Linked DNA regions of Homo sapiens: region 2 is linked to region 1. A link means that fine-mapping ties the variant in region 1 to the expression of a gene that starts in the linked region. Tissue or cell type: whole blood. Region 1 holds a variant in brackets; the other region holds the start of a gene. All regions are shown on one strand. Distances are between the middles of the regions.

Evidence for each region. PIP is the estimated chance that this variant, and not a neighbour inherited with it, causes the effect.
Region 2: TENT5A starts here. The variant in region 1 is fine-mapped to the expression of TENT5A in whole blood (INTERVAL, PIP above 0.99).

The regions. Positions count from the first base shown.
Region 1 is chr6:81,786,247-81,789,010 of GRCh38, forward strand. No RefSeq gene overlaps it. Among named protein-coding and RNA genes, the nearest start is that of LINC01526, 27 kb to the right of the region's middle. The variant T/C (reference allele first, on the strand shown) is at 1,517.
Region 2 is chr6:81,751,353-81,754,116 of GRCh38, forward strand. It overlaps TENT5A (terminal nucleotidyltransferase 5A), which reads right to left and starts at 1,329. Exons shown (of 3, transcript NM_017633.3): 1 at 1,079-1,329; 2 at 238-826. The coding sequence starts at 789. RefSeq lists enhancers at 990-1,490, 2,351-2,400 and a silencer at 1,401-1,530.

The sequences.
Region 1 (2,764 bases):
GTACTGTACTTGAACTACTCTGTCAGGAACTATATATGCCATGCATTTATTAGCATTTCATGGTTTACCAAGCACATTCACAGATACATTGTGTTTCGTCTGACTTTCACATCAATCCTATGAGTTAGGCTATTATTATTCACAACTCACAGATGAACAAAGCCCAGCCTTGAGAAATTTGGTGAGTTGCCTGAGGTCATTCCACTTGTGGTGTCAGTGTTGGAGCTCAGACCCAGGTTCTGAATCTGAATCAAGTTATCTTTCCACTGAACCATTTCAGGGAATAATAAGGACATCTCCTTGGGCCCACCACCTTGAGTAGCCTTCTGACAGAAGGGACTTCTGTTAAGGTGTTCCTAGCTACCATAAAGAGTTGAATGTTAGACCAGAGCTGCCTTCTCTGCGGGACATTTTATAATCTGTCTGTCTGATGGCTCACATGGGCAAGTCTGCAATACACAACAGGACAATGGGTACTACGATAGAGTTTATGTATATAGAAGCTTGGAATGTCTATGACCCTCTGTGTAGCAAAATGGCAACTTGAAGAATTGTTTTAATAGGATTTATTAAAATTTTGACATTTATGCTTTCTGGGGAAGATGAGTTATGTAGACAGCAAAATGGATTTACTTTTTAATTGGCTTTTCTAAAATAATTCGTCTCATTTTGCATTTAGTCTTCAGCTGTTGCTCCGATGCCTAAAATTTTATGTTTTTACATTTTCTGAGGCAGATATTATTAAAATATTCACTGCTACTTGATATTTCAGTGCTTTAGTTTCAGTTTCATTTTTAGGAAATTGATAATATTTTCAAATTATATACCAGAGTGATTGTGTCAATGCAATTTCCTTTTTGTTTTTACTGTATTTACTTTATTCAAGATGCTTTTTGCTTTCTTTACTCAGACACACATCCTTGTGTGATTTTTTGTGTGTGCGCTTTCTAATATTTTTTTCTTGCCCAGTGGCTATTACTATTTTGCCTTGTTCAAAATTCATTCATGTCGGTTTCAAAAGAACTTCAAATATTTGTTTACATTTTACTGTATGAGGCAAGTCCTGTCATTTATCTAACAATGACCAACATTGCTCCTTTAAATGTCTCCCCAAAACAGGTCCTCCCCAGTTCTTCATTTTACCTCAAAGAATCAGAATGACAAGGAAAACTTTAGCAGGAAAAGAAAATGGTAGTCCTATAACTTTTTTAAAAACAGCAATAAATTGTATTATTGGCAGCATAAGAAAAAGTCTGTGGCTGATGACGTTAACAAAGTTGACATAGTGCCATTTGAATTGACTCTACTCCTAGACAAGCATAAGTAGTATTTACTCAGTCCCAGAAACTGTGATTCTCAGGCTGAATCTGAAAATAAAAACCCAACAGGTCTGTCCATTTTTATTTTCTTCAATCTCAGGCTGATATTTAAAACCATTGAAAGACAAAATTGGCTGTTTGATAGTAGCAGCATAGTATTATAGCTCACACACTTCTACTCAGAGAAATATGATGCC[T/C]TAAGAACAAAACTTTGACACAGAGCTTAGCTATTTAAGGTTCATAATACCCTGAATTCGTAGAGTATATTTTGGTTTACAAATATTGCTTTGAAACTGGCAGCAACCTTAAGAGGTTTGCAGAGAGCATAAACTGTTAATCCCAGTTTAGAGCAGAGAGGAGTGGAGGTCAGTCAGAAGGTCTAAATGACTCACAAAAGGGCAAACAACTAATTAGGGGAAGATCCAGGTTTCCTAATACCTAGCCCATATTATTTGTACTATTTCGGTTGAGCATTTTTAAATTTCTATGCTGTTAGAACATTTTTAGACCAATAAGAAGGACAATTTCATATGGTCTCTCAAATGTGCTTCTTGCAATGAATATTGTCATTGTTGGTAGTTTTTATGTGGGAGTATGGAGTGTGCAGTAGGAGGAAACAGGTTTGAATTTTATATAATTACTAACTAGTTTGAAAATATTTCATGACAATGTGACTTTATTTAATATTATTTTCCTTCTACATAGCAGGAGTTCAATTAATTAATTGTGATACTTATTAAAACTGTGAAGTAAATATTTCCACAGAAACTTCCAAAACTTATAAACATAATAGGGTTTAAAAATTGGGGATGAGGAAGATACATCAGTAACCCATATTATCAAATAAAATATTTAAATACTCACTTTGCACTCTAATCTTCCTGAAGACAGTTTATTTCCTTTTATATCTGAGATTCTATATTCTACTGGACTACTGGACTCTACCTCTGATTTATTTTAAAAGAAATTTTAATAGTAATCAGAATGGAAAGTCAATAACTCAAACTTATCAGAATTGAGAAAGGTTCTAGCTTAGGAAACTTGTCCCTATTCACTCAGGAAATAGAGAGCACTTAATCTAAAGGAAGATGCTTGCTCCCATTCAGGAGGGAGAAATGTTGTTCTCTGTTGCTTGAGTCTCTCCCCAGCCCAGCGCCTATCTCCTAACCCAATTGCCATCTCCAACTTCAGAGAGCAGCTTTAGTAAAACACTCTGGCTCAATATGTCATGCTCCCAGACCAGTGGGATTCACACACTCTCTTAAGGCCAGAAAGACATCTTTATTTGTGAACAACATGTTCCAGGAAGCTCCATACACCTACCATCAATAAAGCACCACACAGGACCTTGGGAGCTGGTGACTCAATGGTGTTTGTTCTGTTTTTTTTTTTTTTCATTGCTGTTTATGGAGGACCATTGTACAAGGAAAATTAAAGCTTAAAAA
Region 2 (2,764 bases), 35 kb before region 1:
CAGAGGAGGACCTGGGAGAAGAGTTGTAGCGCCAAAGCATCAAGTAAACTGAAACACTCAACACCGTCCACGCACGTCAGTTTACTGGTTTAAAAAATCAAAAATCAAAGAAATAACGCGCGCCCAAACTCGTGATGGCCACAGATTCATGGCATTTAACCGATGCCCCTCTGCCCGCTCCCCGTCACACCCGGCCCAGACTGGGTCAGGACCCAAGTGCATCTCGGGTGGTGTTACCTTGAGCGTGAGTGGTGTGATCTTCTCTTTGTTCACCCCCTCGGGTAAGAAGTCCAACAGGCAGTCCAGCACGACGTCCTTCACAGTCTGAAACTCCCCTTCCCCGCGCAGGTCGGCGCAGAAGATGAGGTCCAGGTCCTTGTAGCCCAGGCCGCTGTCCTGGTGCAGGACATGGCTGGCTGCCGAGCCGTTGAGGCGCACGTCGCGGACGCCAATGCGCTTCTCGGCCAGGCGCCGCCGCACCACCTTCACGATCAGGCTCGGCTGCAGCTCGAGCGTGGGGAAGTTGCCGCGCCCGTGAATCGGAATGGTCTCGCTCAGGATGCCGTCCAGCCGCTGCACTTGCTCCCAGTTCAGCACATTGCAGTGCGCCGTAGGGCTTTCGCAATAGTCCAAGCAATGCCCACCGAAGCTGCCGCCACCGCCGAAGTCGCCGCCGCCGAAGTCGCCGCCGCCGAAGTCGCCGCCGCCGAAGTCGCCGCCTAGGGGGATGTAGGGGCTGCAGGCCAGCTCGTCCTCAGACATGGCGAAGTACCCTTCACCCTCCGCCATGTAGTGCCCGCCGAGCGCCACTTGGCCCTGGTCAGTCCTAAAAAGAAAGGGAAAGGAGCGCGGTGAGGACGCGCGGCGGCGGAGAGCACGCGCGGCGGCGGAGAGCAGAGGCCCGCCAGGAAAAGAGCGCCCCCTCCCCCGATAGTTCCCTGACCCCGGGCCTCCTCGGAGACTCCCTCCCCCGGCCCTTACAGTCCCCAGCCGCGCACCGCGCCCCGCAGAGCAGCCCCGCACCAAAAGTATCTCTGATGCATCTGGAAAGCGCAAGCGAGAGTCCCGTCTGTGTCACCTGGAGGCGGCCGCCCCTTCTAGGAGCGCAGCGAGCGAGAGCGAAACCGAGAGGCGGCAACACTTCCAGGAGCTGCGAGCGCGCTCAGACAGCAAATAGCGACTTCGTCTTTCCCAGACCCCTGCCGCCTGCGCTCACCACTCCCTCCCCGCGACCCCTCCTGCGCCGCTGCCACCCCAGCTGCGGTGGTCCCGAACTGGCGGCTCTTGCTGCCACACACGCTCGTGTCTCTGGAGCTTTAGCAGTTGTGCGGGGAAAATGTCTTCAGTACTTTTTTTATACCGGGCTTCTCTGCGCTTCCGGGGCCCAGAGCGGCACGTTCGCCACACCCTCCTCATCTGCATAGGGCGCCGCCCCCTCTGCCCTCCCCCGCCCGCAGGGCACGCAGCTGACTAGCCCAGCAGTTAGTGCGGGACGACTGCCGGTGAGCGTGAGGTCCTGGGCTGTATGTGCGGATACTGTGTGCGCCCGTAGATGCGTGTATTTATACATACATTTAATTTATGTACGCCCCCTCCCACAAATCTCTTTTCATTTTCCCCAGGAGGAGACACTTTAAATGCCCCAGGAATCATAAGTGGTCATCAAAACCAGATCACGACTAAAATCCTGCAACTGCAGAAACTTCCCAAAATTCTCGCGGACTCAGCCCGTCTTTAGATCATCACGGTTGGGCTCCGGAGGTTCCTCACGACCGCTCTTTTAAACCTCGGTTTTTAGGTAGACCATTTACTCCATTGATAAACCCGATCCAAGTGTGGACTCATGAGTCCACTCTTGCACGCAAATCAGTCACGGCGCGTGAGTGGGAAGGGCTTGTTGATAACTGGGTTTCGATTCTCGAAACCTCGGGAAGCGCGCCGGGGAGCTCTGGGCGAGCCCGAGAAGGCGCGGGGGCGGCACCACGGGCCTCGGGCGTGCGCGGCTCCTGCGCACGAGTGGCTCCAAGGGGCCAGTACTTCGCGGGGGTCAGGGCGCGTCACGGAGCAGACGCGGGCGAGCAGCCAATGGCCGAGGACTGGGCGGGCCGAGTGGGCGCAGAGAGCGCGCCCGGGGAGTGCGTGCTGCCCCGGAGTCCAGGGAAAGGGCCGCTAGGTGTCCGGTGCCTTTGCTGCGAGTTCTCTGACAAAATTGGAGGCGGCGAAGCGCGTTCCTCGCGGCCCCCTAAAGTTTGGCCATTTTAAGTGCATCATAGTGTCAGTGGAATACGATTTGGTTTTCCACGAGACGTAAAAGTAGGAGTTTCAAGAATAAAATGAATTCTCTCCTCCAGCTTCGGTGACTTCGGCAGAGCTAATTCTACGCACGCTCACTCGCGCCACCACCACTCTTTGCTAGAAAGCTGTGGCCGTCTCTTCGGCAGCTCGCTGCCTCCATCAACTAACCCGGAGCAGCTTTCCCAGCGCCTAGACGCTGCCGGGGGCTGAGGTGGGGCAGAGGGGAGAATGCCAGGGTCACAGAATACTCCCCAAACCCTGCTCAGCCCTGCCCGCCCAGACTGGGAGGAAAAACAGCCCGCACCTCCTAACTGGGGGAGCCCCGGCCTAGTCACTCAAGCTGCGCGGCTCGGGGGTGAGGGGTAGGGTGCGGGGGTGTCACCCGTGGAGCATCCAGCTGCGTGACAACGCCGCCCCCTCCCGGTGCCCTGCCGAGCTGCGTCCCAAAATGGAGAAATCCGACTGTCTC